Homo sapiens: one gene and its partners. The protein of the gene in region 2 interacts with the protein of the main gene of each other region in a pairwise test. Each region holds a gene or a part of one and is shown on either strand. Other genes may lie near its edges. The genes, in order: GAB1, PTK6 and EXOC5.

Region 1 (3,757 bases), on a different chromosome or scaffold from region 2:
GACCTGTGTTTGTTTTGTTTTGTTTTGTTTTTGAAATTTTACTTTAAAGAGCAATATAATCCTATTGATTGGATCTATGGTTCTTAATCATGGTGGCACATTAGAATCATCTGTTGAGTGTTTAAACCTGCCTATTCCAATCTTCACCCCACCCCCATACACTACAATTTAGTTGGCTTAAGGTGAAACCCCAAGCTTTTTTTTTTTTTAAGCAAAGCTCTCCGGATATTTCTAATGTGCATTCAGGGCAGAGAACCCATGGACTACCCCCGACCTCTTCTCTGATCTTCTCTCTTGCCTGCCCATATATTGGCCACTTCCTCAATAATTAGCTCTTCCAGTAAAGGTACAGGGAAAAGATGAGGGAATTTTGGCAAGCATCACACCAGGCATGTGAGCTGTCATTTATACCACAGAGAACTCACAAAACAGGGTGTACAGCAGTTACAATGTTTTTCTTTAAAGCTGAAGCCATTTGCTAGTTAGGTTAATTAGGCAAAATTTGTGAATTTGTTAGTAACGTTACAGCCATATAGGCAAAATTTGTGAATTTGTTAGTAATATTACAGCCATTAATGGCTTGGGGTTAATCCAGGTTAAAAAATGTTTCCTTCCCACCAAATAGTGGGACTCCCATCTGTACTTTCTTGCCAGTATGTACATACCCATACTCTAGGGTGTGTGATAAGCCTGCCTTAAGACCTAGCTTCAGTGTGACAGTTCTACAGGTGAGCATATCCAATTTGCTAAATACAGGAAATGTTTAAAAGAATAGTTCTTTTAAAATGATGTTTAAAAACATCTCTCTTATGTCTGTAGAGTTTTAAAAACAAATTAATTTGTTTACACACCTCTATGCTTGCCTGACCAATTCTTGAATGGGCTGGGCAGATCGCAGTTATATCACTATCCCTGCAATGCATAAATAGTATGAGAACTTCTGTATTTTTAATCCTTGCCTCAAACATTTTGTATTGCGTATTTAGCAGACATTGACTGAGCACCTCCTTGGCGCTAGGCAATGGGAAAGGAAAGAAGAAAGGTTAAAATGGCTCCAGCCCTCAGTACATTCAAATGCACAGATGTCAAATGATTTAGGAAAAAGGTGGAAATGGAGAGCTCAGAGCCAACTCGGATGGTGCCCCGAAGAGGGCTGAGCTAAATCTAGGGGGTAGATTTTGTGCCAAGGGGTGAGAGGCAGGACAGAGCAGAGTGTTTGGGAAACTACAAGTATTTCCAATGTGGTTGGAAGGCAGAGGGGCAAGAAGTGACGCTGGAGAGATTTAGGGGTGGAGATGGGGCGGGAGTTGATTGGAGGGTCCTGTGTACCCTGCCAGAGTTTGGGTTTTATCCTGTAGGCACAGGGGGCAGTCACTGAGCATAGGGAATTGGCTTCAGAATTTGGTACTTTTAAGTTACCCCAAAATCCAGACTTAACTGTTGACTTCTTGTTAACAAATTATTTGTTCAACTCAAAATTGGAGTGACTATTGCATATAAGAAATGGCTACAAAATAAGTTTTTACATAGTCCTTCTCAACTATGCAGACATCTTGCAAATTTCAGCTTCTTCATTACCTGCTCGTAATGGAAGTCTAGTCGTTAAAATGATTTTTTGTGTGAATTTCTTTTAAAATTACTTTGAGTATTTGGTTTTGAAGGTTTCTAGAAAGCCTGTCCTTTTTGTCTGCTCCTGCTCTGCAGGATTGGCAAGGCAGTGTACGGCTTTCTCTGGAGCTACCAAGGCAGCAAGGATAAAAATAGGACAAACTTTAAGAATCTCAGATATTTTCAGATAACAAAGACTGATTTATGTGGGCCCGTTTTGTGCTCTGACAAAACATAGAGACGCTTTTGTGCTGTGATTAGCAAGGGTGCTGATGTCAGTTCTCTTGTCGAGCATCAAGCTTTATTCTGTGGCTAAATTGTGCTTTGTACCATAATCCAGAGAACCTTTGTATCTGCCTTATTAAAGTGTGTAGTTTATGTAATTGCTTTTGTTTTCCAGCTTAATCTGTGCCAGATTCAATGAGGGTGACTCATTTTGTGACTGAGACAAACATTCACATTTGGACCATGTTAAAAATAAATAAATAAATGGCAGGTGCTGCTTGGCTAAATTCTGTGTTTTAATGCTGTAATTTCCTGCCGTAAGGGTTCACGTCTTGTATAATGTCTACTCAGCCTCTGTAATCACTAGCCCAATATATCTAATGCACCTCAATTCATTGCTACTCATTTCTTGATTATTTATTTTAGTTCCTAAGGGCTTTTTGAATTGTAACAATGTGATTTCAACAGGGAAGCCAAGGAATGGATGGGGGGGAGCCACAGTTAGCCGGAAAACAAAGAGTGACACATAAGCTGTAGCAAAAGGACATGTTCTGTGCTTTTCTGTTTTTGCCATTTTCCCAAGATGTTTTGTGCATGTGTTTTGGTAAAGTTGTCTTAGTTATGTTTATTTTATTATGTATATGTTCAGTATTGGAGCTCTTTTTCTCAAGTGGAAGATGCTTTGAAAGCACTCTCTTCATTGTGGCCCATGTATCAAATCTAATCTCAAAAATTTTACAAGTCTACTCTCTCAGGAGAATTCTGTTTATTTATTGTACAGATATGCTATGTACTAGGCACTGTGCTATGGCAAATAAAGCAGGCGTGGTCACTATCTTCTTGAACTTTTCAGTCTGTTTGGGGAGTTACGTACTACACAAATAAATACAAAGAAAAATTGAATTGCAAAATTACACAAATCACTACGTAGGTAAGTAATAGGATCTCTAAAACTATGCTATTAGTTTACACTGGAGTTGGTTGCATTGAGGGTGGTCAGGGAAGAGAAGCCCTGAAGGTTGGAGTTGGCCAGGCAAAAAGTGAGGGAAAGAATATAATGTATTTAGGGGAAAACATGTGCAAAGTCCCTGAGGCAGGTAAGAGTTTAGCCTCCTATAAACCCTATTATTGGAGGGGGAAAAGTGACAGTTGATGGAAATTGAGAGAAAAAAGACAGGAAACTGTATTTAAAAGATGAACTATACAAGCATAGCAATATGGTACTATTTATTAATAGTATAGGGGCAAATGACACTCTATACAGTGCAACAGCCTCTGAGAGTCTCCTGAAGTGCAGTATAGAAATGGATGCTTACAATACTTAGTCTGAATCATTGGGGAATGGATTATGTTTGGTGAAGTATGTAGTAAAGCATTTTAGAAAGATTTGCGTGCAAGACAATAAAGTTTTAAAAAGTCATTTCTGTATTTAAAGATGAAGCTTCACTATCTGGAGAAATCACTTACTGAATGATATGATTTCTTGAGGGCCCTGCATAAATAACATCATATTTTATATTCTTTTGCTTTACTTCTGCATTACTTTTTAAAGCTTACTGCTTGAGAGGGAAGTATCCATAGAGGGATAATTTTACTAAGAGATGATATTTATTTATTTTGCAGTAAGTAGATGCATATTCAATGAATGGATTTTTATAGTCCAGAAAACAGTGCTAAAATCATGTGAATCCAACACTTTATGACTTTTCAATATTATCTAAAACATCTATAGGACTCTACCCTGCCTTCCCTGGACACAAATTATATACTTATTCCTTTGAGCTGCGTGAAGAATGAGAAGTTAATTTAAAATGTTGATGATTAAAGACCTATATAATGTTTTTAGGCCTTTGTGATCTCTGGTCATCCTCTTGTTAAAGGATTGCCTAAATTTTTCTGTAGAGGAATGCTTGTTCATGTAGCA
Region 2 (3,757 bases):
GGCCAGAGCGTGCAGGGCAGGAGGGAGCCGTTCTGAGGGAGGGGAGGCAGGGGTGGTACTGAGGAAGCACCAACAGCAACTGTGGGGACCCAGAAACTCTGCGCAGGTGTGGCCAGCAGGGCTGGGGACGCAGGGAGGCGTCGGAGTTGGGGTGGCCACACAGCTCACGCTCTCCCTCCCAGTGCGGGACACGCAGGCTGTGCGGCACTACAAGATCTGGCGGCGTGCCGGGGGCCGGCTGCACCTGAACGAGGCGGTGTCCTTCCTCAGCCTGCCCGAGCTTGTGAACTACCACAGGGCCCAGAGCCTGTCCCACGGCCTGCGGCTGGCCGCGCCCTGCCGGAAGGTAGCCGCTCCGCCCTGACTTGGTCACGCGGGGTCAGGCTGGGGGGTCACAGGCTGGCATTTCCTACTGGGAGAGGTTGGCCGGGCAGCATGGGAGGGGTCCTGACTCACTGACCTGGGGCCCACTGGAGGGAAGCCCATGGTTCTGCAGAGCACAGGTGTTTGCCTGAGTTGGGGGTGGGGCCAGGAGACCATCCCCGGGCCTGGCCACTCTCGGAGAGGCCAGCGGCACTCTGCAGGGTCCTGGCTCCGGTCTGTCTGGGTGTTTCATGCTGGGCTGGGGGCAGCCCCCAGGAGAGTCCACCCTTGTGTCAGACACTCAGAAACCCCCAACCCAGGCTGATCGTGGCCCTAAATCTGAGGCTAAATCCAGGCTCCCTGTGCTGGCTTCAGACTGGCACTTCCTGAAGGATGAGCCCCTGCCCTGTGTCCCCGACTCTTCCTCCAGCACGAGCCTGAGCCCCTGCCCCATTGGGATGACTGGGAGAGGCCGAGGGAGGAGTTCACGCTCTGCAGGAAGCTGGGGTCCGGCTACTTTGGGGAGGTCTTCGAGGGGCTCTGGAAAGACCGGGTCCAGGTGGCCATTAAGGTGATTTCTCGAGGTGAGTGGGCCCCGATCAGGGCTCTGTGTGGCCCCGTGCCTGCCCTGGGCCACCCTCCCACCCCGCCAACAGGGACCTCTGGCCTCGAGCCCCAAGCAGCACCCACAGCGTCCATGCGAGAGTGGTTCCCTTTCAATTGCACCTATGTTTTTACCTAAATACATTTATTATAAAAGAAAATTTTAGGCCGGGCACGGTGGCTCACATCTGTAATCCCCACACTTTGGGAAGCCAAGGTGGGCGGATCACGAGGTCAGGAGTTTGAGACCAGCCTGGCCAACATGGGGAAACCACGTCTCTACTAAAAATACAAAAATTAGCCGAGTGTGGAGGCATGTGCCTGTAGTCCCAGCTACTCGGGAGGCTGAGGCAGGAGAATCGCTTCAACCCAGGAGGCGGAGATTGCAGTGAGCTGAGATCGCGCCATTGCACTCCAGCCTGGGCGACAGAGCAAGACCCCGTCTTGGGAAAAAAAAAAAAGAAAGAAAGAAAGAAAATTTAAAATCCTTGACGTAATGGAAAGCCATTAAAATAGATCACTGGAAATGGGTAAAACTTCCCTGGAACCCGTCTGGGCCCCAGCAGAGGTCTGGCCTCTATGTCAGAGGTCTGGGCCGGGCACAGGAAGAAATCGGGTGGCCACCACAGCCCCGTGGGTACGCCAGGCTGGGGCCCTGTGGGGCCGGCTGCATCTGCCATTTCGTGGCCTCGGGAGCCAGGTGCCCTGTCGGGGGCAGGAGGTCTGTGTGTCCTGCACAGCTGCTGGGTGTGATGGCTGCTGTGTGTGGGGGCAGGGCCTTGGCCTCTTCCTTGGGGCCTGGGGGGTCAGGGGCTGCATCCACCGAGGCCACCCGTCCCCGCAGACAACCTCCTGCACCAGCAGATGCTGCAGTCGGAGATCCAGGCCATGAAGAAGCTGCGGCACAAACACATCCTGGCGCTGTACGCCGTGGTGTCCGTGGGGGACCCCGTGTACATCATCACGGAGCTCATGGCCAAGGGCAGCCTGCTGGAGCTGCTCCGCGGTGAGTGGCATGGGCCGGGGCTCTTGCTGGAGGCAGCGGGGGCACGTGAGGAAATAAAGTGCACACCCCCCCCCCACGTCTACACACACACACACGTAGACACACAGACACACAGACACACACATGCACACACAGACACAGACACAGACACACAGAGACACACACGCACAGACACACATGCACACACACATGCACACAGACATACACATGCACACACAGACACACACACAAGACACATCACATGACACACACAGACATACACATAGACACAGACACACACACAGAGACACACAAAACAGATCACACGGACACACACAGACACACACACAGATCACACGGACACACACAGACACACACACACACAGACACACACTGATCCAGACACACACACAGACACACACAGATCACATTGGCTCAAAGACTTCATCCTCTCTAAGTTCCATTATTTCCTTTCTCACCAAAACCAAAGACAATCGCTGCCAGGGAATGGAGATGCCCGTGCGTGAAGGCGCAGTTTGGATTCCGATGTTAGAATGGGAGGGAACGTTGTGGTATAGGAAAAATGCCGTGTGTGTCTGAGGAGAGCTACACTGAGGCACCACGCACGTTTGCGCTCTGAGCGAAAGGCTCCGTACCCCTCGCCCTCACACAAAGGGCTTGATCATCTCAGACAGTCCCCACGCCCTTCAGGGTCCTCCGGGAGGGAATGTGGGGTAAAACAGGCACCACCAGGCCGCAAGCCGCTGACAGCCATTCTCCTGTTCGAGTTCCCACTGCCTACATCACGCAGTCATGAGCCTCTTCGCTGGTCCTTCTGCGTCCAGCTCCTCCCGCGTCATCACAAACTTCCAGAAGGGAAATCGCTGGGCTAGACCACTAGGAACTGCTCCTTGGTTCTTTTTTTTTTTTTTGAGACGGAGTCTCACTCTGTCGCCCAGGCTGGAGTGCAATGGCGCAGTCTCGGCTCACTGTAACCTCCACCTCCTGGGTTCAAATGATTCTCCTGCCTCAGCCACCTGAGTAGCTGAGATTACAGGCACCTGTCACCACGCCCAGCTAATTATATATATATATATATATATATATATTTTTTTTTTTTTTTTTTGAGACGGAGTCTGGCTCTGTCGCCCAGGCTGGAGTGCAGTGGCGTGATCTCGGCTCACTGCAAGCTCCGCCTCCCGGGTTCACGCCATTCTCCTGCCTCAGCCTCCCGAGTAGCTGGGACTACAGGCGCCCGCCACCACGCCCGGCTAATTTTTTGTATTTTTAGTAGAGATGGGGTTTCACCGTGTTAGCCAGGATGGTCTCGATCTCCTGACCTCGTGATCCATCCGCCTCAGCCTCTCAAAGTGCTGGGATTACAGGCGTGAGCCACCACGCCCAGCTTGCTCCTTGGTTCGTGATAAACAGTTGCCTTCCAGAAGGGCGGTAGCTGGCCTGCAGTTCCAATTTTCAATCAGGCCAGCTGCCCTTTGCCCCGGCCCCTCCTCTGAGCCCGCAGAGCTTGGAGGCAGATGAGACATGGCCCAGCCTCCCCAACCCTTCCCCACCTCAGCTGGCTCAGCTGACCCCAGGCTCTGCTCCACTCCCCTCTGCAGACTCTGATGAGAAAGTCCTGCCCGTTTCGGAGCTGCTGGACATCGCCTGGCAGGTGGCTGAGGGCATGTGTTACCTGGAGTCGCAGAATTACATCCACCGGGACCTGGCCGCCAGGAACATCCTCGTCGGGGAAAACACCCTCTGCAAAGTTGGGGACTTCGGGTTAGCCAGGCTTATCAAGGTAGG
Region 3 (3,056 bases), on a different chromosome or scaffold from region 2:
TCTTAAGTTCTCCAGTAGAATGTATTTTCAATTTTTGCCACAAGGGGGAGAAGTTATTTTTATAGTAATATGTACATTTTTTTATTTTAAAAATAGAATTCACACAACTTTACAGCATCTATGAACATTTTGCTATCCCAATTATGTGTGTGTGTGCATGTGTGTAAACAAGATTCTGAAAGTCTTGCATGAGAAAAATTTCAAAGGAAATTAATAACAAAACCAAAACAGTTTTGAAGAACATGTGCACAGTGGACACAGGAATTGAACAAAGTTTACCATGATTAACATTATGTTTTCTTAGTTATATATCACATTGAATTCCTTTATCAACTCTAATAAGAATCTACTGATTAGTGTTCTACATTCTGCTTTTTAAAGAAAAATTTTTGAAACAATCAGACTTAACAGAAGGGTTGTAAATACTGTACAAATAAAATTTTTCCCTTTTGAGAATAAGTCGCTGTCATGATGCTGCACCACCCTCCAATACTTTTGTATTTCCAAGAAGAAAGAATGCTTCAGTATAACTACAATACATGAAAATTGGGAAGTTAACATTGACATATTACTACTATCTAATCCTCAGACACCAATCATTTTACTAGCTGTCCTAATTCCTTTTAAGGATCTCAGTTCAAAATCATGTATTGCTTTAGGTTGTAGTGGCTCTAGTCTCATTCATTCTGACACAGTTCCACAGTCTTTCCTTGACTTTTTTGACTCTGGACATTTTTATAGATTATAGGGTAGTTACTTTGTAAAACACCCCTACATTTGGATTTCTGTTTCCACGTAATTAGATTCTGTTTGTGCTTTTTGGCAGACATACCACGGATGCAACTCTGTGTTATTGTTGCATCCTATCACATAGTACACAATTTCAATTTGCCCCATTTCTGATGATGTTCATTTTTATCACTTTCTTAAGGTACTATTTACCAGGCTTCTCCACTTTAAAACTATTACTTTTCCCTTTGTAAATATTTTGGAGGTAGATATATATTAATAGATACAGACATATATAGGTCCCCCTTATTTATTTATTTGCAGACAGAGTCTCGCTCTGTTGCCCAAGCTGGAGTGCGGTGGCGTGATCTCAGCTCACTGCAACCTCTACCTCCTGGGTTCAAGCGATTCTCCCACCTCAGCCTCCCAAGTAGCTAGGACTACAGGCACATGCCACCATGCCTGGCCAATTTTTCTATTTGTAGTAGAAATGGGGTTTTGCCGTGTTGGTCAGGCTGGTGTCAAACTCCTAGCCTTAAGTGATCTGCCCACCTCAACCTCCCAAAGTCCTGGGATTACAGGTGTGAGCCACCTTAACCAGCCATCCTTTATATATATATATATATATATATATATAATATTAATATATATAAAAATATATGTATATGTGTGGTGTGTGTGTATATATATACATATGTGTGTGTATATACACGTGTGTTTATACACGTGTGTGTACATATACACGCGTGTGTATATATACACACGTGTGTGTGTGTATATATATATACTAATCAGAATTCTCTTGATATCACTATGTATTCATAGTTTTCTGTTCAACTAATTATAATCTGTCATTTTACCAAATCTCAAATTATCCCAAATTTGGTCAGAAGTAGCCTCTTCAGGTTGTCTCCTGTGTCGTTTTGGCATGTTCCCATCATTTTTACAGCAATTTATTCTGGGCACAACAGGATTTTCCAAGGTCATCTTGTACTTGCCTTGCCCCAGCTCTGGAATCAGCCATTCCTCCACCTTTTAGTGAAATTGGCAGTTAGAAATCAAGATTTGTGCATGAGATGTGCTTATTATTATTGAGATGTCTCACCCTACTCTTTCTCAATAGATAATGCTAGGGGGCTTTATGTGTGCATACACACACACACACTCACGCATATTTTAAATATACACCCACACCCATGCGCCCCTCTGCAACATCTTCCTCACCTCACTTGAGCTTCCATACTCCATACTGGGCTTCCCCTCTCTCTGGAGGAGACCATCCTCATCTCACATAGCTCTTGAAGTTTTGGCTTTAGGACCAAATTGAGGGAATAAGAATGGTCATTGCAGAAATCCTGTAAAAATTTTAAAATATTAAATTTAAAAATTACAATTTTATCACGCAGAAACAACTATATTTTTGGTGGAAGTTTTTTTTTTTTTTTTTTAATGTAGTGAGCAAATTAGTAAAGCTGAATTGAGGAGGGGGTAAAGTGTTATGCCCAAGACACAGAACTTACATTTTGAAAGAATTAAATTTGAAATGCATACCGTATGTTTTTCTATTATACAATCTCCTTGCTACTGTAATTGCTATTTAATAAGAGTGCATCAGAGAAACTGTATGAATGGAAACCTGACCATTAAGCACTGAATACCAATAGGATATTTTTACTAATAAAGTTCAAAGGAAAAATGATCATACAATTGTTGTTTTTGTAGGCCATTAAAAATATATATGCTAAGAAGGATAGACTTCATGTGAGAAAGGAGTCTCTGGGCTGGATCTATTATAATAGATGTTACAATAAACTTAATGTGAAATAGGAGTCAAATGGAGGCACAAAGAAGTTAAATAACTTCACCAAAATTATATATCTAAAAAGTAATAGAATTCAAACTTACATCCTTAGGCTTCTATAGCCTATGTTTTAACCACTTTGCTCTGTTACCTCTAAGAAGATTTCATAAAAGAGGTCACATTTCAGCTGAGCTTTAAAAAGGCAAGTAGCATTTCATCAGTGGTGGAGGAGAAGGGGAATTCTAGGCAGAAGTAACTTATACTTGCAGGGTGTGGAGGCATGAGTCACTGGTATATCACTGAATGGAAAAACTGCTGTGTGAGTAGAGCTCAATGTGTGGGGTCCATCAAAAAGGGCAAGTTAAAACGAATATTTGGATTGGGGTTAGCTTATTTAGAGCCTTTAGGCCGGGCGTGGTCGCTCATGCCTATAATCCGAGCACTTTGAGAGGCCAAGGCGGGTGGATCACCTGAGGTCAGGAGTTCGAGACCAGCCTGGCCAACATGGTGAAACCCCGTCTCTACA

The links.
Region 1: the proteins of PTK6 (region 2) and GAB1 interact in binary tests that used the Homo sapiens proteins (3 or more experiments, as listed by UniProt).
Region 3: the proteins of PTK6 (region 2) and EXOC5 interact in binary tests that used the Homo sapiens proteins (3 or more experiments, as listed by UniProt).

The regions. Positions count from the first base shown.
Region 1 is NC_000004.12:143,409,854-143,413,610, forward strand, and holds part of GAB1 (GRB2-associated-binding protein 1), read left to right. Parts: intron 1-3,757. UniProt on the Homo sapiens protein: Adapter protein that plays a role in intracellular signaling cascades triggered by activated receptor-type kinases. Plays a role in FGFR1 signaling. Probably involved in signaling by the epidermal growth factor receptor (EGFR) and the insulin receptor (INSR).
Region 2 is NC_000020.11:63,530,741-63,534,497, reverse strand, and holds part of PTK6 (protein-tyrosine kinase 6), read left to right. Parts: intron 1-182; coding exon 183-346; intron 347-793; coding exon 794-947; intron 948-1,810; coding exon 1,811-1,972; intron 1,973-3,570; coding exon 3,571-3,752; intron 3,753-3,757. UniProt on the Homo sapiens protein: Non-receptor tyrosine-protein kinase implicated in the regulation of a variety of signaling pathways that control the differentiation and maintenance of normal epithelia, as well as tumor growth.
Region 3 is NC_000014.9:57,199,879-57,202,934, reverse strand, and holds the end of EXOC5 (exocyst complex component 5), read left to right. Parts: 3' UTR 1-2,428; downstream 2,429-3,056. UniProt on the Homo sapiens protein: Component of the exocyst complex involved in the docking of exocytic vesicles with fusion sites on the plasma membrane.